7 linked regions of the Homo sapiens genome follow. The protein of the gene in region 1 interacts with the protein of each later gene in a pairwise test. Each region holds a gene or a part of one and is shown in the gene's direction. Other genes may lie near its edges. The genes, in order: NDUFAB1, HINFP, ZNF829, SMYD3, NRF1, RBM18 and EIF3B.

Region 1 (3,500 bases):
TTATAGGCACACGCCACGATGCCCGGCTAATTTTTGGACTTTCAGTAGAGATGGAGGTTTCACTGTGTTGGGCAGGCTGGTCTTAAACTCCTGACCTCAAGAGATCCGCCCACCTTGGCCTCCCAAAGTGCTGGGATTACAGGCGTGAGCCACCACACCTGGCCTCGTACCATTTCTTGATAAGCACACAGCCTCTGTTAGATCCCTCCAACTGAAATTTCTTTTCTGCCATTGCCATATTACCTCATTTCTTCTCCCCCTTTCTCTTTATTCCTTTCTTCTCCATTTTATTTGTGACTTGGAAACCTATTTGAGTCATTGTTAAGTAGGCCGGTCATGTGCCTGTATAAAAGGTCTCCTTAACCCATGTATAATACGAAAGGAGACTAGACATTTAGACAAAGAAACATGCTCTAAAACTCTTGAAAGTACTCAGAAAGGCTCGTTAGAATATCTATCATACTCTCCAACTCATCTCTTTAGTTTGCTGATTAAACCTGATTTTTTTTTTTTTTTTCTTGAGACGGAATCTCACTCTGTCACCCATGCTGGAGTGTAAATGGCATGATCTTGGCTCACTGCAACCTCCGACTCCCAAGTTCAAGCGATTCTTCTGCTTCAGCCTCCTGAGTAGATGGGATTACAGGCACATGTTACCACGCCCAGCTAACTTATATTTTTGGTAGAGACGGGGTTTCTCCATGTTGGTCAGGCTAGTGTCGAACTCCTGACCTCGTGATCCGCCTGCTTCGGCTTCCCAAAGTGTGGCAATTACAGGTGTGAGCCACTGCGCCCAGCCTAAACCTGATTTTAATAACTGACTTCTTTTTCTTTTCTTTTTTGAGACAGAGTCTCGCTCTGTGGCCCAAGGTGGAGTGCAGTGGCACAGTCTCGGCTCACTGCAACCTCTGTCTGGGTTCAAGCAATTCTCATGCCTCAGCTACCTGAATAGCTGGGATTACAGGCACACACCACCACGCCCAGCTAATTTTTGTATTTTTAGTAGAGACGAGGCTTCACCATGTTGGCCAGGCTGGTCTCGAACTCCTGGCCTCAAGTGATTGGCTCACCTCGGCCTCCCAAAGTGCTGGGATTACAGGTGTGAGACACACATCGGCCCAATACCTGTTCTTTATGCAAGATGAATGTTTCTTCTACAGAGGTTATACTGGTTTGGTTCTCTGGGCAGTATTTATTATGATTTTTCATGGACCTTTGTGAGTTTCAGGGACCTGAGCCCTAACAAGCAGCCCCACTTTCTATAGGGAAATGCCTGAAGAACGCCAAGCCTCGGACTTAAAATCAACTTCAGGAGGTAAACAAACCAATTTAGATTAGGGATTTCTTTCTTTTTCTTTTTTTTGAGACGGAGTCTTGCTTTGTCGCCCAGGCTGGAATGCAATGGCGCAGGCTCGGCTCACTGCAACCTCTCCTCCCACATTCAAGCGATTCTCCTTCCTCAGTCTCCTGAGTAGCTGGGATTACAGGCGCCCACCACCACGCCTGGCTAATTTTTGTATTTTTAGTAGAGACGGGGTTTCACCATGTTGGCCAGGCTGGTCTCGAACTCCTGACCTCAGGTGATCTGCTCACCGTGGCCTCCCAAAGTGTTGTGATTATAGGCGTGAGCCACCACGACTAGCCAGATTAGGGATTTCAGTAGTGAGCAAAACTGCCAGATACCCTGTTTTGTTTTCTCTGATTCTGCGTCGTACCTTCCACAGCATTAAACCCCCTGACCTGTAATTGCAGCTCATTCCACATTTGTTGAATGAAATCTGGTCAATACCCTAATACCTAAACATTGAGCCGACTAATACCAGAGATACGTGAGGTATTGCTCTAACATGGCACAGGCCAGAAGGGCTCATGGTTTGGCTGGTGGCCATGAGGCAAGCCTCGCTGGAAGGGAAACAGATTGGAATGTAGTGACTGTAAGCTCCCTCATCCCCTCTTTGGGTGGGAGGCCAGCTTCCTTTGTCCTGGCTGAGATCAGGGAGATAACTGCTGGAACCAAACTAGACCTTTCTGGTGTATGGTCCTCAATTTGAATTGCCTTTGGGTTTACCATGACAGCTCTTTCCTTTTGGGTTATTTTGACTTGGGTCAGCCTATTAAAGGTGGCAGCACCCTGTAGAGGCCTCGGGATGCTGAAGATGCCATGAGAAGACACAGGCATTCTGCAGACGCTAGACAATTTTAGTGGCAGTTAGTGTCGCAGAGCAGTATGAATGTCCAGAGCCTGAGGGTTGAAGCCAGGAGGCAGAGGGGCCGGTCCTGACTCCCAGGAAGGAGGCCTGAGATGCTGCTGAACTGTTGGGGCTTCTGCGATTACCCAGTCCTGCAACTTAGTGTGTCCTGGTGGCCACAATGAGAATCAGATGCTGTGGGTTCTCTAAAGCCCCGAAAGTTCTGTGAAAGTTACCTATAGGCTTGTGCATTGATTTAGAGGTATTTTCCATTCAATGACAGTGTTTCCTTCCTGCCGTCGCTCTAGGTTCCTGGTAGAGTTACACAGTTGTGCCGCCAGTATAGCGACATGCCTCCTTTGACGTTAGAGGGCATCCAGGACCGTGTTCTTTACGTATTGAAACTCTATGACAAGATTGACCCAGAGAAGGTAACTGATGGTGGTTTGAATTTTTTTCTTTAAATATAGAGTATTTAATTACATGCTAGAAAATGCAAAGGGAAAGATACTCAGTAAAAATCTCCCTGGCTCCCAGACACCCAGGCCCATTCTGGGAGATAGCCAGCGCTACCAGTTTCATGTATGTTTCCAAAGGTACTCAATGCATATGTTAAAGAAGTATACACACGTGTGTATATTATATGTATGTATCTCTCACCCTTTTTAAAAAACACAACTGGCCGGGCACTGTGGCTCATGCCTGTAATCCCAGCACTTTGGGAGGCCGAGGCGGGCGGATCACCTGAGGTCGGGAATTCAAGACCAGCCTGACTAACATGTAGAAACTTCATCTCTACTAAAAATACAAAATTAGCCGGGCATGGTGGCACATACCTGTAATCCCAGCTACTCGGGAGGCTGAGGCAGCAGAATCACTTGAACCCGGGAGGTGGAGGTTGCAGTGAGCCGAGATAGCGTGATTGCAGTCCAGCCTAGGCAACAAGAGTGAAACTCCATCTCAAAAATAATAATAAATAATAAAAACACAAGTGGGGCCGGGCGTGGTAGCTCACGCCTGTAATCCCAGCACTTTGGGAGGCCGAGGCGAGTGGATCATGAGGTCAGGAAATGAAGAGCAGCCTGGCCAAGATGGTGAAACCCCATCTCTACTAAAAATACACAAATTAGACAGGCGTGGTGGCAGACACCTGTAATCCCAGCCACTCGGGAGGATGAGGCAGAGAATTGCTTGAACCCGGGAGGGAGAGGGTGCAGTGAGCCGAGATCATGCCACTGCACACTGCAGCCTGGATGACAGGGTGAAACTCCATCTAACAACGAAAAAAAATTGAATCTGTTGTGTAGGTAA
Region 2 (2,490 bases), on another chromosome or scaffold:
CACAGTCTGTGCTGTGAATACGAAGCAGTCGGCAAGGACAACCCGGTGGTGCTGTGTGGCTGGAAAGGTAGGGCTGCTTCTTAACTTGTGGCTTCTGGAGGAAACGCTGGGGTTCCTGAAGAGCTGGGACAGAAAGGGATAGGGGTCCTACAGGGGCAAGGTTGACTGCCGGCTGGAGAGACTCAGGGGTACCAGATCCTAGGCAAAACTGGGGTTTTGTGGCAGGAGACTGATAGGGCTTCCTTCCCAGGCTGTACCTGCACCTTCAAGGACCGCAGTAAACTTCGAGAGCACCTCCGCAGCCATACCCAGGAGAAAGTGGTAGCCTGCCCCACCTGTGGGGGCATGTTTGCCAACAATACCAAGTTCTTAGATCACATCCGTCGCCAGACCTCATTGGATCGTAAGTAGTCAGAGGAAGTGGGGTGGATGCAGGCTGTCCTGCTTGGAATGGGTTAGGGGCATGTTTCTAGTGGGGGTGGCCACTGAAGAGACCTGCCTTTTGGCTGCCTCTTCTTTTTGGGCTCAGGCACCTCCCATAGTCTCTTTGCTGATTCAGATTCGTAGGCATTGTTATTCAGTACTTACTGTACCTCGTATCAGTTACTTAGGGAATCCTCACAACAGCCCCATGAGGTAGGCTTCTTATCCCCCTTTTTGCAGATGAGGAAACTGAGGCTCAGAGAGGTTAAATCACTTACCTGAGATCACACAGCTAGTAAGTGGTGAAGCTGGAATTCTAACTCAGGTTCTCTAAGTCCCATGCTCTTTCCATGATACTGTGTCCATTCATAGCTCCCTAAGCTCTCCTTTTCTCCTTGGGTGGTTCCCTTCTGCCTGGGATGGTTCCCCTCTCCTTTCTGTGCCTCTCCACTATCACCTACAGCCCTCCTTTCTTCTGCCTGCCCCACCCCAGAGCAGCACTTCCAGTGTTCTCACTGTTCCAAGAGATTTGCCACAGAGCGGCTATTGCGGGACCACATGCGCAACCATGGTGAGTGGCCTGCGGCCCACAGCCTCCCTCCTGCCCTCCAAGGTTCCACAAGTTCTCACATCACAGCCTCCTCTCTGCTTCTCTCAGTGAATCACTATAAGTGCCCTCTGTGTGACATGACCTGCCCGCTGCCTTCCTCCCTCCGCAACCACATGCGCTTTCGTCACAGTGAGGACCGGCCCTTTAAATGTGACTGTTGTGACTACAGGTAAGGGGGACCAGGGACCAGAAAACAGCTCATGTTCCAGTGTTCCCCATGTCCTCCAATCCCTCCTGATTTCTCATGGCAGCTGCAAGAATCTTATTGACCTCCAGAAGCACCTGGATACCCACAGCGAGGAGCCAGCCTACAGGTGTGATTTTGAGAACTGCACCTTCAGTGCCCGATCCCTCTGCTCTATCAAGTCCCATTACCGCAAAGTACATGAAGTGAGTGGGGCTGGTGTTGGGAAGGACTAGTGGAAGTATGGGGGACCCTGGGGTGAAGAGCTGGTCTCATTTCTCCCTTCCTTCCCCATCAGGGAGACTCTGAGCCAAGGTACAAATGTCATGTGTGTGACAAATGCTTCACACGGGGCAACAACCTCACCGTGCACCTTCGCAAGAAGCACCAGTTCAAGTGGCCCTCAGGGCATCCCCGTTTTCGGTATGTCTCTCAACCCTCCTTCCCAGATTAACACACTTGTTTTTATACCTTTTCAACCAGTTTTAAAAACCTTAATTTGGGTCGGGCGCGGTGGCTCACGCCTGTAATCCCAGCACTTTGGGAGGCCAAGGTGGGCGGATCATGAGGTCAGGAGTTCGAGACCAGCCTGGCCAACATGGTGAAACCCCGTCTCTACTAAAAATACAAAAAGTAGCTGAGCATGGTGGCACATGCCTGTAGTCCCAGCTACTTGGGAGGCTGAGGTGGGAGAATCACTTGAACCCAGAAGGCGGAGGTTGTAGTGAGCTGAGATCATGCCACTGCACTCCAACCTGGGTGACAGAGCGAGACTCCATCTCAAAAATAAATAAATAAATAAATAAAACCTTAATTTGATGGTGGTTTTATGTCTGCCATTTCCATTTAGATTCAAAGAATCCTAAGAATAATGGTGGAGCAAAGCTTATTTTTCTGTTTTTTGAATCTTGTAAGGCATGGTGCCAAACCCAATAAATGGTGCCAAAAAGTCCTGCAGCTGGAACTAGAGCTAGAGTCTAAGGGTTCTGATCCTTAGCTCCAAGGCCTTCTCATAAATCCTTTGACACTTTCACCCTCCAACACAGTCAGTCAGTCTCTGTTTTTCTGGTTGGGTTTCTATATAAAACTTTCCATTTTGAGTAATGATCTTTCCCTCTTGCCTTTTCTTCTACATATTCCAATAAAGACCTTTTTTGTCTTCAACTCCTGTCACTTGGATTCCAGGACTTCTTCCATCCCTCATGTTTGTTCCTTACTTTGCCAGCCTCGGCCATTTCTGTATCCCCCTGCCTGGGTTTGCTGCCCTTTATGC
Region 3 (2,334 bases), on another chromosome or scaffold:
AAAACTCACAATTTATCCAACATCAGAGAATTCATTTTGGTGAAAAACACTATGAATCTAAGGAGTATGGGAAGTCCTTTAGTCGTGGCTCACTCGTTACTCGACATCAGAGGATTCACACTGGTAAAAAACCCTATGAATGTAAGGAATGTGGCAAGGCTTTTAGTTGTAGTTCATATTTTTCTCAACATCAGAGGATTCACACTGGTGAGAAACCCTATGAATGTAAGGAATGTGGAAAAGCCTTTAAGTATTGCTCAAACCTTAATGATCATCAGAGAATTCACACTGGTGAGAAACCCTATGAATGTAAAGTATGTGGAAAAGCCTTTACTAAAAGTTCACAACTTTTTCTACATCTGAGAATTCATACTGGTGAGAAACCTTATGAATGTAAAGAATGTGGGAAAGCCTTTACTCAACACTCAAGGCTTATTCAGCATCAGAGAATGCATACTGGTGAGAAACCTTATGAATGTAAGCAGTGTGGGAAGGCCTTTAATAGTGCCTCAACACTTACTAACCATCACAGAATTCATGCTGGTGAGAAGCTCTATGAATGTGAAGAATGTAGAAAGGCCTTTATTCAGAGCTCAGAACTTATTCAACATCAGAGAATCCATACAGATGAAAAACCATATGAATGTAATGAATGTGGGAAGGCCTTTAATAAAGGCTCAAATCTTACTCGACATCAGAGAATTCACACTGGTGAGAAACCCTATGACTGTAAGGAATGTGGAAAGGCTTTTGGTAGTCGCTCTGACCTCATTCGCCATGAGGGAATTCATACTGGTTGAATGACAGTAAAGTAAGACCATTTTGTTAACCTTTATAATAATTTTTTTAAAACAGGTAAGGAGAACAAATTAGGATACATATTATCAAAGGTTCTCCTATGTATTCGTTTTTAAACGATACGATAACAAAGTACCAAGTACCAAAACCTTGGTGGCTTAAAACAAGAGAAATTTATTCTCTCATAGTTTAGAGCCTGGAAATCTAAACTCAAGGGTGCTGATCGTTTTGGTTCCTTCTGAGGACTCTGAGGATCTGTTCTATGCCTTTTTCCTAACCTCTGTTAACAGCTGGCAGTCCTTGGCATTCCATGGCTTTTACATACACCATTCCAATCTCTGCCTCCATCTTCACATTGCATTCTCGCTGTGTATCTCTGTGTATGTCTTTTATTTGGACACCAGTCAGGTTAGATTGGGGTTACCTGGTGACCTCATCTTAACTTGATTATATCTGCCAAGACCCTGTTTCCAAGTAAGGTCACATTTACCGGTACCAGGGGTTAGGACTTCAGCATATCTTTTTAGGGGATACAGTTCAACCCATAATACCCTGTTAGAATGATTTTGTCTAATATATTTGTAATTTCCTTTTATACATAAGTTGTTAGTCAAATTTATTTTATTTTATTTTATTTTGAGACAGAGTCTCGCTCTGTTGCCCAGGCTGGAGTGCAGTGGTGTGATCTCAGCTCACTGCAACCTCCAGCTCCTGAGTTCAAGCGATTCTTGTGCCTCAGCCTCTCAAGTAGTTGGGATTACAGGCATGCGCCACCATGCCCGGCTAATTTTTTTTTTTTTTTTTTTTGTATTTTTAGTAGCGACGGGGTTTCACCATGTTGGCCAGGCTGGTCTTGAACTCCTGACTTCAAGTGATCTGCCCGCCTCAGCCTCCCAAAGTGCTGGGATTACAGACGTGAGCCACCGTGATGGCCAAAACAGACTTTATACCAACAAAAATTAAAAAGGACAAAGAAGGTCATTTATAATGATAAAGGATAAATTCAACAAGAAGATAAAACAATCCTAAATATGTATGCACCCAACACTGCAACACCCAGATCCATAACACAGATACTACTAGACCTAAGAAAAGAGATAGACAGCAATACAACAATAGCAGGGGACTTCACCACTCCATTGACAGCACTAGACAGATCACTGGGACAGAAATCAACAAAGAAACTCTGGACTTAAATTGGACTCTACACCAAATGGACCCAACAGACATCTGAAGAACATTCTACCCAACAACCACAGAATATATACTCTTCTCTTCTGTGCATGGAACATTCTCAAAAATAGGTCATATACTGGACCACAAAGCAAGTATCAATAAATTTTAAAAAAACAAAATCATATCTAACATCTTCTCTGACCATAGTGGAATAAAACTAGATATCAATACCAAGAGGAACTCTCAAAACAGATACATGGAATTTAAACAGCTTGCTCCTGAATGATTTTTGGATCAATGATGAAACTAAGGTGGAAATTTAAAATTTTTTGAAATAAATGAAAATAGAGACAAAACACA
Region 4 (3,500 bases), on another chromosome or scaffold:
AGCTTATTCATATTCTGGATTTTGAACAGTTCATGTAACTGTAACTTTGGGGTAGTGGATAATGAGACTGAAATTAATGGTTCCTCTGCTGGTTTCCGTCTGTTTTTTTTTTTTTTCTCCCAGGAGGTTGGTATTTCTGCACTTAACCACCTGATGTTTTTAGGGGGAGTATATCCCAGATAAATTCTGTTGTAAGTCAAAGAGCATCCATGATTGGCTTGGCTCTTTCTTAAGCAACTACTAAGATGCTCCTACATTTGGGTTTGAACGTTTTTTATTCTCTTGGCTATGAAGTTTCTTAAGTGACTCTAGTAATACTGATGGTTCCCCTTGTGTTTACAGGTGATCTGCAACTCTTTCACCATCTGTAATGCGGAGATGCAGGAAGTTGGTGTTGGCCTATATCCCAGGTATGGTGTATGGTACTTCATGTACTGGAAGACACACTTTCATTCCCACCCAAATCCCCAGCCCTTTGGAGGTAGTTAGAAAGGCAGTTGCTGCAGCTTGTTCAAGAGCCAAGCTTAAAACTTAGCAATAAATTACAAAAAAATGGAAAATGTTAAGTTGAAAGAAAACAGTTTTATAACCCCACATTATATGCTGTGATATTAACAAAGGGGCAGATCTCAGAACTAAACTCTTGTTCTCAGGGGGACTTTGGGTGAAGAAGTTGAGGACGGTGGGTGCTAATTAACCATCGGGCTGATTTTTGGTTATTCCCCAGTTTCCTGAGCTGCAGCACATGCTGATTTCACCGGACTTGCCGTACGTATCAGTTGGGTTCATGTTGTCTTTCGAGTTGGCACACTCTGAGCCCTTTCACTCAAGGAGGCAAGAAAACTCTCAGGCTTTGGCCCCTGAATGCTCTCTCCAGCTATTGCTGAGCTGACTCTTACCACTGAGCTATGAAACCGTCTCTCCACAAGCACTATAGGCACACCCAGTTTCATTTTGTTTTTATGCCATAAGAGTCCAAATACAAATTTAGACTTTCTAATAATTGTGAATCTAAGAATTCAGCCTTTTTTCTTATTTCTCACAATTGTCATTAACTGTAGGTCAGGTCTACTGGTAGGTGGTTCTCAAAAGGCAGTAACATAGGATGATTCAAAGCATGGGCTCTGCGTTCAGGCCACCTGGTCCAAATTCCATCACCACTTACTAGCTGTATGTCCTTGAGCAAGTCATTTAATTTCTGTGCATCAGTCTCTTTACCTGTAAATGATCCTCATAAGATTGTTGTGAGGATTAAATGTGATGAACATGCTCAAGTGCAAGAAAGTGTTTCTACATAGTAAGTGCTCATTCTAATTATTACCAATTCCTGATAGCAGCTTAAATCCATTTTGTTTCCCAGATGGTAAGAAATGTCCCTCCAAGGTAATAAAATGACTGGACCATGGCCCAGGATGCATCAGGATGTAGGTGGCAAAATAACGTCAGCTCTCTATTTAAGAGCAAATAGTCCTAATTATTTTTCAGTGTGGATGTTCTAGCAAAGGCGGCCATTTCTCCAAAGGAGCTCAACAAATGAGATCCTATGGGAGAGGTCAGTGGTATCTTGGCTGCTGCATCCCATTATGTCTGAGTATTTTTTTTTTTTGAGATGGAGTCTCACTCTGTCACCCAGGCTGGAGTGCAGTGGTGCGATCTCGGCTCACTGCAACCTCCGCCTCCTGGGTTCAAGCGATTCTCCTGCCTCCACCTCCTGAGTAGCTAGGACTACAGGCATGTGCCACCACACCCAGCTAATTTTTTTGTATTTTTAGTAGGGACAGGGTTTCACCATGCTGATCAGGCTGGTCTCAAACTGCTGGCCTCAAATGATCCACCCACCTCGGCTTCCTAAAGTCCTAGGATTACAGGCGTGAGCCACCACACCCAGCTGTCTAAGTATTTCTTTCTGAGTCAGTTTCTTTCTGACCTTCGTGTTGGGTTGCCTTATTGACTGTTATCTAATCAGTCAACTATGCCCCAATCCCCAAAAAGGACTCAGGAAATTTTTTTATTATTAAATGACGGAATTCCCTAGTTAGCCTGCATCTTGAGGAGAATTGCACTTCGTGGGAGGTGTGCTAGTGACATTTCTGTGAATGCATCCCCGAGTACTGAACCCCTGGCATCCTGTCAACCCTACCTGCTGCTGCCCCCCAAAGGAAGGTGTATTTTACCCACTGCATTTGTTAAATTTAGTTGACTCTACCTGCTGAGCTGTGACAGTCTTCCCCCCTTTTTTTTTCCAGTATCTCTTTGCTCAATCACAGCTGTGACCCCAACTGTTCGATTGTGTTCAATGGGCCCCACCTCTTACTGCGAGCAGTCCGAGACATCGAGGTGGGAGAGGAGGTAAGGAAACTCATGCTTCCCAGCCTGGCCTTCTTTCCTATCAAAGACCCTCTCAGCTCGGCCCGTCCCTAAAACTGATTGTGCCTGAGGGGACAACTTTTCATTGTCCTTCTGCCAGTGAGAGTATTTGTAGTTCAGTCACCTCTCCCCAGCAACCTATCCTTTCTTCTCCCAAATTACAAATGGGCTAATTTTTTAGGGGAGAGGTCACCATATTTCTGGATGATGACAGTTCCTGTCCTGTGTGTGAGAGAGAGAGGAGTTTGTGTATGACAGAGGGTGTGTGTTTTATGCACACACAGGGAATTCATGAAATCTCCTCAGTGGCAACAGCTGAGCAGCCTCTCATATCCTTCCGTGGGCAGGGGGGGGCATCCCAGCTTGTGAGTGGGATCCCCAAGACTTCTTCACTCGGAAGGCCACTGGCTACATTGAAGGTAATGATGCATGTTAACTTTGTGCTAGTAAAGCAAACAGCTTATACTGTCTCAGGCTGACATTGGGACTTGACAAACCCATCAGCATCTCTGGGTGATCATTTCAGCAAAGATGCAAAGGGAATAGAGGACAGGGAGGATGACCTCCAGCAGTGAACTGGCCTTGACCCCTCCAGTTTGACAGACTGTCCAGCCAGCCTCTTTTGGTGCAGAACCTTCTTACAAGACAGCTGCAAACGGGCTGCTCCAGGGCTCTGAACCTAAGCTTGCACTGGTTTGCACAGTGACTACCCATGCTGAGTTCTGAGTTACAGATATTTCTACTTTCCAGAACCCCGTTTCCTTCTCCTTTCCAATTTGCTAAAGTGGATATTTATTGCAAGGAAAACAGTACTGAAAGCTTTTATTGCATTTATGCAGCACTCAGCCAATAAAACCTCAACTCAGAGGTACCATATTTTATGTAGACAGGGATTTGGCTTTGACAAGATTCTCCCCAAACTGATTTTCAGTGGAAGGAGCCACTTCTTATACAACTACTCGCTAAATTTCCAGATTTTAGGACCAGTGTATGAAATATACTGGGATAGATGTCAGTGAGATGGACAATGTAGTTTTTTCTCTTTTTTTTCTGGGGCCGCAAAGGACTTCAAGGCAGGTAAGAGATGAAACCGCTATCTATTTTCAGCAATATTCATTTGGGGGCTGAAGAGC
Region 5 (3,500 bases), on another chromosome or scaffold:
GGCCTGGGCAATGTAGGGAGACCCCTTCTCTACAAAAAGAAAAAAAAGAAAAGAAGGAAAAGTAAAGAAAAAAAATAGCTGGGCATGGTGGCATGCGCCTTTAGTCCCAACTACTGAAGGCTGAAACAGGAGGATCCCTTGAGCCCTGGAGGTTGAGGCTGCATTGAACTGTGATCATGCCACTGCACTCCAGCCTGGGCCACAGAGCAAGATCCGAGAGTGAGAGAGAGAGAGAGAGAGAATGAATGAATAGTTAGTATATGTTCCACAAAGAATGTAGGACTTTTCTGGGCACTAAAGAATGAGTGGCGGCATTAGAATAGTAGCATGGAAAATAGTCCAGCCAGGGGACAGAACAAAGGCAAAGAAGCGGGAATGGGCTTAGCAGCTCTTAAGACAGTGCAGAGATTTGTCTGATGGAGGACCAAGGCTGAGTGGTGGGAATTAATGGGAACTGACTGTAGTGTGAGGCCAGATTGTGGTGGGTCTGAAAAGCTGGGCAGAAGGATCTAGTTTAGTTGCCATAGTTAAAAGACATTTGGAGGTGTTTTGAGCATTGGAGCTATGTAGGTAACATTTAGGAAAACCTCTCAGGCAAGGATATGTGGGAAGAGGGAATGAAGGGAGAACTTGGAGTTTCCCAAGAAAGCCAACTAGAAGGATACACTAGCCTTGGGCCAAAAAATTAGAATAAAGGTGGGGCCGGAGAAGAAGGGATAGACACCAGAGACGTTTCAAAGAAAACAAAAGAACTGGACTTGCAATGTGTGACTAGGTAAGTGTTGAAGGAGAAAAGTAAAGATAACTTTGACATTTTTAGTTTGAGTGGCCGGGGAAAGGGTGGTTTTCTACTTGCTAAGATAAAAAAGTTGAGAAGACAAGTAGATTGGAGAGAGGGTAGGGTAGGAGTTTAAGTGAAGAGGCTGATGCTGAGCCCACCTTTCAAGTAACATTGAGTTATTGGAACTCAGTTGGAAGGCCTGGTGGGAGAGCCGAAGGAAGACTTGAGGGTGAAAGATATCCACGTCCAGGTGCCAACGTGACCCAGAACTGAGGAGCATAAGGAACTATTGGTGCAAATAGGGTGAGGCGTCAGAAGTGAAGCGATCACCAGAATTAGGGAATATAGAGGGTTCCAGGTGGATCTGAGCAGACTCTGTCAGTCTAGTATTCTCCACAGTGAGTGCTTTCTGATCACTTTAGGATTTCTGTTTTGTTTGTTTGGTTTAAGACAGGGTCTTGCTCTGTCACCCGCTTTAGGATTTTTGTTTTGTTTTGTTTTGTTTTGTTTTGAGACAAGGTCTCACTCTGTCACCCAGGCTGGAGTGAAGTGGCACCATCATGGCTCACTGCATCCTTGACCTCCTGAGCTCAAGCGATCCTCCTGCCTCAGCCTCTCTAGTAGCTGGGACTACAGGCACGTGCCACTGTAACCGACTGAGTTTTGTATTTTTGGTAGAGACAGAGTCCCACTGTGTTGCCCAAGCTGGTCTCAAACTCCTGGTCTCAAGCATTCTGCCTGCCTGAGCCTCCCAAGGTGCAGGGATTATAGGCATGAGCCACTGCACCCAACCCACTTTAGGATTTTGTTAATTTAGAATTATTTAGCCTTCTCATTTCATTTTCTCCAGACTCTCCTAGGTATGAATATAAAGAATTCTCCTTTTTGGAAACTGTTAATGGTATTCAAAGAAAAGGGAGTTTATGAAAGTCTATATCAATTTAATCTATACCTCTGAGAAAGCCATTTTTTTTAACATGAAGAAGTATAAAATATTGTGTGTGAAGATTAAGCCCTTTCTTGCTCTATGTATTTGAGCCTAGAAAAAGACACACTCCCAAGAAATTAGAATAAAGGGAAAAATGACTTTGAGATGTACTTTCTTAAAATAACTGAAGTAATGACCGCATGAGCCAGCTGATGGGTTTTTAAATGGATACGTTTCTATCAGCCTGCTGCTTGATGCCAGAGCCAAATATATATGGAGTGTATTATATCATATCCTGTAGGCAGGAGACTGTTGGGGCATTGGGGGACTTAGAGAGGTGAAGTGGCAGGCTTGGCACAGGAATTAACAGCATGGCTACCGTCAACCAGAACTTTATTAGGTCAACATTACTGATTGGGTTCATGGTTCCCTATTATGTAACAATTTGTATCATCTTCTCGTAAAATAATATCTAATATTTATTATAAGAATGATAAGAATACCTGATATTTATAGAAATCTTTAATATTAAAGTGTTGCTGTACTCATTCTCTCATTAATACTTAATTATTCTCATTTCTGTTTTTTCTTGTTTTACTTTGTAACTACAAATCCACACCCCCGAGTCTGATTCATTGCTAAAAGTGGCCTCTTTTTGGTTTTCAGCTGCAGGGGCAGTATGGGTGCATCCTTAGTTGCAGGATGCTACTTATATCTGGAGTGCTATAGACCACCAGGTTAAAAGGAAGACAGTAGGTCTGGGAAGGAGGAATAGATCATAAATTGATAAACTGCTTTTCTTGCCAGAAATCATTATCAGCGATTAAGAATATTCACAAAGTAGACCCTCCCCCAACACACACAGAGTGTGGTTACTATGCCAGGAAATAAGAATGGCAGTTGTCTTTGTGGTTTAAAACCTGTTTGGTCTGGATTTGATTTGTAAAATAAATCTGAATGAAGTCCATAATGCATTTAAATTCACACATGCTTTACTATGTCTATATGTCAGACTCATGGACAGTGGCCTAGCTTACTGGAAAATTTCTAGAAGAGTTTTAGGGTTATTTTCCCTTTTTATTAAGTTAAAGGCCTGTTTGTTTTCCTATATTTTATAATCAGCCACCTTATTGAATTCTCATTATTGTTTGTAGTAGTTTTTCATTTGATCTCTTTGGAATTCTCTAGATATAAGGTGACTTCATCTATAAATAATAATGATTTTATCAGCTCGCCTCTTATTTCTCTCTTATCTAATTGCATGGATTCCTACTTCCAGAACAGTGTTGAAAACACCCCGAGTTTGGCACCTTACATGCATGAAAACTGTAGAAGGGAAATAAGCTATAGTACCAGTAATATCTTGGGAAGCAGAAATTAAACTTAGGGGTAGATATTCTTACTCTTAGAGGAACAAGTCTACAAAATGCAGCCTAAGGTGCACTTTATCAACATATTTATAATTCTCAACCACCCATGGAGATATAGGAACCTATGGAAAACAGTGGGTTTTCATCAGTCACATCTTAGAATTCTCTGGGACCTTCCTGGAAACCTCTCTGTTTTATAAGGTTAGAATTTAAGGAGTCATAAACACACCCCAGATGTCTTTCATGAGTATTGATGACCACACTGTTCTCTTCCAGGCCCAGCTTCGGGCATTTATCCCAGAGATGCTCAAGTACTCTACAGGTCGGGGAAAACCAGGCTGGGGGAAAGAAAGCTGCAAGCCCATCTGGTGGCCTGAAGATATCCCCTGGGCAAATGTCCGGAGTGATGTCCGCACAGAAG
Region 6 (3,500 bases), on another chromosome or scaffold:
TGGGTGACAGTTGTTGAACTGAAGTATCATGTAGTAATAGAGACTTTGGCCTCCTGCCCAGTCAGCCTCTGGCTTCAGAGGAGGAAAACTTTAGTTTCTCCACACAGAACCACGCCCCTTTCACCTTAAATGGCAGCTTGTGTGCCCTGGCTGCCAGAGCAGTTGTCCCAAGGGAACTGGTTCTGGGGCCCTGGTTGTGGAATCACTGAGGCCTTTGAAGGACTGCCCAGAGGGCATGCCCTCCTTGAATAAATGTTTGTTGAGTTGAATTTGAAGTCTTGTGTTCACACATTGTTACTCCCCTCCTGCCTGAATGTTCACATTTCCTTTAGTATTTCATAGACATTGATGGAAGCAGAAACCAAAACTCTTCCCCTGGAGAATGCATCCATCCTTTCAGAGGGCTCTCTGCAGGAAGGACACCGATTATGGATTGGCAACCTGGACCCCAAAATTACCGAGTAAGTCTAAGTTACCTTAGTTTTTTACCTACAATATTGGGATGTTTTGTGGTGATGATGTCAAGAAGAATTTTCAAGGGGTGTGGGATATACTTAGACCCTTTTACTTACATCGTGTCTTCGGAGAGATAAGATGTTGTTAGCCTGTTATCTTGTCACTTTTTTTACATTTGGACTCTGCTACTGCAAGGACACAGACTTGGGTATCCTTTAATCCATATACCTGTTTTTTTCCTATCTGCCAAAGACGTTCTCCCATTTCCAACTATTTGAATCCTTGTACCTAGTAGCTCTAGGGAATTATTCTCTAGAATCAGCCTTGGGAATACATTTGTACCCAGAATAAAGGAACAAGCAGAAGTCTCAGTACCTTTGCAAACAGGCAGAGGAGACCACTTGACTGTAATTCATATTAAGCAGCCATAGAACTATAGAAGGTCAGAGTTGTAAGGAACCTTAGAAATCATGTCCCTTTGGTTTTCATTCATTCATTAAATGATTTGAGTGCCAAGTGCCATGCTAAGCAGTTTGCAGACTTCTTAAATCTGAAGAACCCTGTCTTAGAGTAAAAGTAATAATCAGAGCTGTATATAAAATAAGAGCTCAGAGTTGCTCTGACTAAAAGGGAGAAGAGATGGAACCAAAATCTTTTGTCAACTACTACCCTTTCTTTGGCCATCCCTGTTTAGGCTCTGTAGAACTTCCAGGGCTCCATAGAGCACACTTGACAACCTCTGATGGGACCCAGCTTTTTTATCCTACATAGAGGAAACCAAGTCCCGAAAGACAGAAGTACCTTGCCCGAGTTCACGAAATTGATTGAATTGCCCTGACTCCCTGCTCTTTTACATCACAGCCATTAAGATGAAAAGGAATTTCTTAGCTGAGAAAATTGAGAGGTTTTTCCCTTCTGCCAGTTATTTGATAGAGGGAGGGTGGTGGTTGGTGGCAGAGTACAATGAGTGGATTGGCCTGTATGAGGTCAATGCTGAAAGCCAGTTTTTTTGTTTGTTTGTTTGTTTTTGTTTTTGTTTTTAAGACAGTCTTGCTCTGTTGCCCAGGCTGGAGTGTAGTTGCACAATCTTGGCTCACTGCAACCTCCACCTCCTGGGCTTAAGCAATTCTCATGCCTCAGCCTCCCGAGTAGTTGGGACTACAGGCATGCGCCACCATGCTGGCTGATTTTTGTGTTTTTAGTAGAAATGGGGTTTCACCATGTTGACCAGGCTGATCTCGAACTCCTTACCTCAAATGATCCACCCACCTTGGCCTCCCAAAGTGCTGGGATTACAGACTTAAGCCGCCATGCCAGGCAGAAAGCAAGTTTTGAGCATATCATCAGTCCTAGAAGTTACTCCCTTTAGAATAGTGTTAAAGACAAGGGGAGGCCGGGCACAGTGGCTCACGCCTATAATCCCAGCACTTTGGGAGGACGAGGCAGGCGAATCACTTGAGGTCAGGAGTTTGAGACCAGCCTGGCCAACATGGTGAAACCCCGTCTCTACTAAAAATGAAAAAATTAGCCAGGCATGGTGGTGCATGCCTGTAGTCCCAGCTACTTGGGAGGTTGAGGCGCGAAAATTGCTTGAACCTGGGAGGCGGAGGTTGCAGTGCACGGAGATTGTGCCACTGCACTCCAGCCTGGGCGAAAGGTGAAGGGAGGAGATGAGGAAACCTGCTTCTTTGAGTATGAGATGAGACAAGGTATATATGAGAGTTAAGATTAGGAAAGAGAAGAAAAGGATATAACCTTATAAATCAGGATTATAACAAAAAGTTCCTTAAACCTGCTCAAGCTCATATCAGCCAAATGTAAATATATTCAGTTCCCTTAGAAATTATGACGGTATTTAAGATGTGTTGCCCACATATTATGTTATCTTGGTCACAGGGACCCTAGAGTGGATTGCATTTATTTCAGTTCTCTTTTACGGTTCATGGCTTTTGAGGGTGAGTATATGAATCTGTCCAACCTCTCAATTAATGTCTCTTCATCAAAGAAATTTTTTCCATCATCCAAAACCCAGGCTATGAGGGGATGCTCATAGTGGTTTCCATTCCCACCTCTGCCTGTCTAAATGGAAATCTAAAGTGTGGAAACAGCGTTGGTTGTGTTGGCTGCACTTCTCTGTAATGAGACTTTTGTTCTAATTGTGTCCTGCTGCTTGACGGGAAGGTTCAAATGGGCATTTGCCACCTCAGTTTATGTCATAAGTTGGAGTGTGTGGATGTTTTTTTCAATTAGAACATTGGCAGGAACATTGAATCAGAACTTTCCCACTGATATCTCTGCTCTTTTTACATCAGGCCAGAGGTAGACATCAAGTAATAAACTAGATCAGAGCATGCTGGCTGGAAGTGCTGGGCTTTCCCTGTGGCTGGCTTCTCCACTTCTGTATCACAAAAGACCATTTTTATTATTTTTTCCTATAGATTCTTTTTTCTTCTTCTTCTTTTTTTTTTTTTTTTTTGACAGCTCTGTCACCCAGGCTTGAGTACAGTGGCACAATCATAGCTCATGGCAACCTAGAACTCCTGGGTAGCTGGGACTACAGGTGCTCGCCACCATGCCTGGCTAGTTTGTTGTTTTTTGTTTTTGTTTTGTAGAGACAGGGGTCTCAGTATGTTTCCTAGGCTGTTGTCAAACTCCTGGGCTTAAGCAATCCTCCTGATCAGCCTCCCAAAGTGTTGGGATTACAGGCGTGAGCCACTATGCCTGGCCATCCTATGGATTCTTTACCTTAAAACATTTTATCTGTCAAACAGACTGGTTTATTAAATTGTAATAAATTTATGCTTAAAGATATAACTACCACTGAGCACGGTGGTTCACACCTGTAATCCCAGCACTTTGGGAGGCCGAGGCGGGTGAATCACAAGGTTAGGAAATCGAGACCATCCTAGCCAATGTGGTGAAACCCCATTTCTACTAAAAATACAAAAATTATCCAGGCGTGGTGGCGGTTGCCTGTAGTCCTAACTACTCAGGAGGCTGAGGCAGGAGAATCACTTGAACCCGGAGGGCAGAGGTTGCAGTGA
Region 7 (3,500 bases), on another chromosome or scaffold:
ACTTCAGGGATTTACCATTCATTTAATACTTCAATGTATTGCCATATTCTGATTTTGTTACTTGACCTAATAATGTTCTGTATAATACTTACTTTCCTTCAGTTCAGGATCTAGTCTAAGGTCACGTATTTTACAGATAATAAATTGTCCTTCCTCTATCACCCAGGCTTGGCGCCACCCAGTGGCACCATTGCAGGCTCATTGCAACCCCAGCCTCCCAGGTCAAGCGGTTCTCCCACCTCAGCCTTCCTGAGTAGCGGGGACCGCAGGCACACGCCATGACATATGGCTAATTTTATTTTTTGTAGAGATGGGGGTCTCACTTTGTTGTACAAGGTAGTCTTGAACCCCTGGGCTCAAGTGATCTCCTGCCTTGACCTCCCAGAGTGCTGGGATTACAGGCGTGAGCCACCGCACCTGGCCGAGCCGTGATTTTTGATCTAGCTAATCCGGCTGTCGGAGGCCTGCTAGGGAAAGGGGCGGTTGTGGGAGGCAGTGTGAGGCGAGCTGGGGCCACTCTAGGGAAAGGGACAGTTGTGGAAGGCAGTGTGAGGCGAACGGGGGCCACTCTAGGGAAAGGGGCAGTTGTGGAAGGCAGTGCGAGGCGAGCTGGGGCCGCTCTGTTTTCGCCCTCATGGGTTGTGTCTGCCTTCCCCTCTGGTGTTGTAAGGGACCGTCTGTTACACACTTTGTGTGAACTGAGTAAGCAGGTGCAGTAGCTCCAGACAAGCCAGCAGTCAGGTAAATCATGGCTGGGAGGAGCCCCCAGGCTCTGAAGTTTCTATCAGACCTGTGCTGGCTTTCGAACTGGATGGGACTTGTTTTTTTGTTTGTTTGTTTGTTTGTTTGTTTTGTTTTTTTTTTTTTTGAAACTGAGTTTCATGCGTCGCCCAGACTGGAATGTAGTGGCACGATACCAGTTCACTGCAACCTCCACCTCCCGGGTTCAAGCTATTCTCCTGCCTCAGCCTCCTGAGTAGCTGGGATTACAAGTGCCTGCCACCACGCCCGGCTAATTTTTGTATTTTTAGTAGAGACAGGGTCTCACCATGTCGGCCATGGTTGGCCAAGCTTGTCTTAAACTCCGGACCTTGGGTGATCCACCCACCTCGGCCTCCCAAAGTGCTGGGATTACAGGTGTGAGCCACTGCGCCCAGCCGTATTTTTTTAACTTGTTAGTCTTTATTAAACATGGGTAAAGATAGAGTTCCACACTGCGCCACCCTCTGGATCACTTAGCAGCCTTGTGTGGGATCGGTGAGATCTTCTGTGCTGATCTTGGAGAAACCGGAGCGCCTGCAGCGTATTGACACCAGAATGAACAAGCGCCGCTGCTTCCCGCTTCCGCTTGGGTCTCTTGGGGCCGGGCAGTGTGGGGTTTGGGGAGAGAGCTGGTTCCGCGAGTTCTGACGGCGTGTTCTGGCCGCACAGACAGACTGTGATCCTCTCGTGAGAGGAGGATAGTGTACAGTGTTGCCCTTCTCTTCTAGGTACCTGGTGACCTTTAGCCCCCTGATGGACACGCAGGATGACCCTCAGGCCATAATCATCTGGGACATCCTTACGGGGCACAAGAAGAGGGGTTTTCACTGTGAGAGCTCAGCCCATTGGCCTATTTTTAAGTAAGTGGACCATTGTAACGAGCTCTGTAGCCTTTGTCTTTTCATGGGAATACCCTGGCACTTTTGTTTTTCTTAGGTGGAGCCATGATGGCAAATTCTTTGCCAGAATGACCCTGGATACGCTTAGCATCTATGAAACTCCTGTAAGTGGCCTCAGTGATGGCAAACGCCCCGTCCGGTCCTTGCTTGTAACCGGGGTGTGGTGCCTTTCCTTATTTGTGCTAGAAGAGGAGGAGGAGGTTTCACAGATGCATAGGAAAGGCCTGTCTCCTGTGCCTTTTTAACTGCCCCTGCTCTGGGCAGAGCTCTTCAGTCACTCCTGCCCACCTGGCGCAGCCGTGGGAAGTCCTGGATGGGAGTTAATGCAGTGGGCTTCAGAACTGCAGTTCTGGGTGGCGGGTGGGTGGATGGGTTCACTGTCACGCTCTGTGTGCACTGCCCCCTAGGCAAACTCACATCAGACTCTTGTTTCCTTTTGTAAAAAGTTAGGTGTGTTTCTGAGACACTGACATGATTTGACTCAACTGCAGCCTTCCTTTTTTTTGGGCAGTCTATGGGTCTTTTGGACAAGAAGAGTTTGAAGATCTCTGGGATAAAGTGAGTATTCTTATCAGTTTGGTGTCTTAGTGTGTTCAGGCTGCTTAACACAATACCAAAAAAAAAAAAAAAAACACAATACCATAGGCTGGGTGGCTTATGACAGCTGAGATTTCTTTCTCCCAGTTCTGGAGCTTGGGAGCTTGAGGTCAGGGTGCCTGCAGACTGTCTGGTGACGGCCCACCTCCCTCCTAGTGGACAGCCCCTCGGTCCAGCCTTCCCTGGAGGAAGGCCTCCGTGGCCTGTTCTGTAAAGTCTCTCATCTCATTCCCAAGGGCTTCCCCCTCAGGACCTCCCACCCCCCAAAAGGCCCCACCCCATGCCGTCACCCCAGGGGGTTAGAATTTCACCCTGTGAATCTGGGGGACACAGACGTGGTCCATTGCAGTTGGTTTCCTTTATTTGCTGTCTCTCCTTTAGCACTCAGCTTTTTGTTGTTGTTGTTAGAGACAGAGTCTCGCTCCGTCAGGCTGGAGTGCAGTGATACGATCTTGGCTCGCTGCAACCTCCACCTCCTGGGTTCAAGTGATTCTTCTGCCTCAACCTCCCGAGTAGCTGGGACTACAGGCATGTGCCACCAAGCCCGGCTAATTTTTGTATTTTTAGTAGGGATGGGGTTTCACCATGTTGGCTGGGCTGGTCTCAAACTCCTGACCTTGTGATCTGCCCGCCTCAGCCTCCCAAAGTGCTGAGATTACAGGCGTGAGCCACCATGCCCAGCCTGTCACTCAGTTCTTAACCAGTTGGAGAGAAAACGGTGAGTTTGTTCTTTTTTTAAAATTTTTTTTTTTTTTTTTTTTTTTTTTTTTTTTTTGAGGCAGAGTCTTACTCTGTCTTGCAGGCTGGTGTAGAGTGGCGAGATCTTGGCTCACTGCAATTTCCACCTCCTGGGTTCAAGTGATTCTCCTTGCCTTAGACTCCCAAGTAGCTGGGACTGCAGGTGCCTGCCACCATGCCTAGCTAATTTTTGTATTTTTAGTAGAGATGGGGTTTCACTGTGTTGGCCATGCTGGTCTCAGAACTCCTGACCTCAAGTGATCTGCCCACCTCAGCCTCCCAAAGTGCTGGGATTACTGGCGTGAGCCACCACACCCAGCCATTTTTAAATCTTTTTTGAGACAGAGTCTTACTCTGTTGCCCAGGCTGGAGTACAGTGGCGTGATCTCGGCTGACTGCAGCCTTCACCTCCCAGGTTCAAACGATTCTGGTGCTTCAGTCTCCTGAGTAGCTGGAATTACAGGCGCGCAACCACTACGCCCAGCTAATTTTTTGTATATTTTA

The links.
Region 2: the proteins of NDUFAB1 (region 1) and HINFP interact in binary tests that used the Homo sapiens proteins (3 or more experiments, as listed by UniProt).
Region 3: the proteins of NDUFAB1 (region 1) and ZNF829 interact in binary tests that used the Homo sapiens proteins (3 or more experiments, as listed by UniProt).
Region 4: the proteins of NDUFAB1 (region 1) and SMYD3 interact in a two-hybrid assay, tested with the Homo sapiens proteins (one large-scale study listed by BioGRID and IntAct).
Region 5: the proteins of NDUFAB1 (region 1) and NRF1 interact in binary tests that used the Homo sapiens proteins (3 or more experiments, as listed by UniProt).
Region 6: the proteins of NDUFAB1 (region 1) and RBM18 interact in a two-hybrid assay, tested with the Homo sapiens proteins (one large-scale study listed by BioGRID and IntAct).
Region 7: the proteins of NDUFAB1 (region 1) and EIF3B interact in a two-hybrid assay, tested with the Homo sapiens proteins (one large-scale study listed by BioGRID).

The regions. Positions count from the first base shown.
Region 1 is NC_000016.10:23,586,317-23,589,816, reverse strand, and holds part of NDUFAB1 (acyl carrier protein, mitochondrial precursor), read left to right. Parts: intron 1-2,497; coding exon 2,498-2,620; intron 2,621-3,500. UniProt on the Homo sapiens protein: Carrier of the growing fatty acid chain in fatty acid biosynthesis.
Region 2 is NC_000011.10:119,131,580-119,134,069, forward strand, and holds part of HINFP (histone H4 transcription factor), read left to right. Parts: coding exon 1-67; intron 68-250; coding exon 251-403; intron 404-663; exon of another isoform or gene 664-718; intron 719-916; coding exon 917-994; intron 995-1,081; coding exon 1,082-1,202; intron 1,203-1,284; coding exon 1,285-1,423; intron 1,424-1,515; coding exon 1,516-1,640; intron 1,641-2,364; coding exon of another isoform or gene 2,365-2,490. UniProt on the Homo sapiens protein: Transcriptional repressor that binds to the consensus sequence 5'-CGGACGTT-3' and to the RB1 promoter. Transcriptional activator that promotes histone H4 gene transcription at the G1/S phase transition in conjunction with NPAT.
Region 3 is NC_000019.10:36,889,958-36,892,291, reverse strand, and holds part of ZNF829 (zinc finger protein 829), read left to right. Parts: coding exon 1-800; 3' UTR 801-2,334. UniProt on the Homo sapiens protein: May be involved in transcriptional regulation.
Region 4 is NC_000001.11:245,926,780-245,930,279, reverse strand, and holds part of SMYD3 (histone-lysine N-methyltransferase SMYD3), read left to right. Parts: intron 1-342; coding exon 343-410; intron 411-727; exon of another isoform or gene 728-745; coding exon of another isoform or gene 746-768; intron 769-2,246; coding exon 2,247-2,349; intron 2,350-3,500. UniProt on the Homo sapiens protein: Histone methyltransferase. Specifically methylates 'Lys-4' of histone H3, inducing di- and tri-methylation, but not monomethylation. Also methylates 'Lys-5' of histone H4.
Region 5 is NC_000007.14:129,705,720-129,709,219, forward strand, and holds part of NRF1 (nuclear respiratory factor 1), read left to right. Parts: intron 1-3,355; coding exon 3,356-3,500. UniProt on the Homo sapiens protein: Transcription factor that activates the expression of the EIF2S1 (EIF2-alpha) gene. Links the transcriptional modulation of key metabolic genes to cellular growth and development.
Region 6 is NC_000009.12:122,258,341-122,261,840, reverse strand, and holds part of RBM18 (probable RNA-binding protein 18), read left to right. Parts: intron 1-332; 5' UTR 333-348; coding exon 349-461; intron 462-3,500.
Region 7 is NC_000007.14:2,364,827-2,368,326, forward strand, and holds part of EIF3B (eukaryotic translation initiation factor 3 subunit B), read left to right. Parts: intron 1-1,490; coding exon 1,491-1,622; intron 1,623-1,698; coding exon 1,699-1,765; intron 1,766-2,107; coding exon of another isoform or gene 2,108-2,131; exon of another isoform or gene 2,132-2,146; intron 2,147-2,172; coding exon 2,173-2,219; intron 2,220-3,500.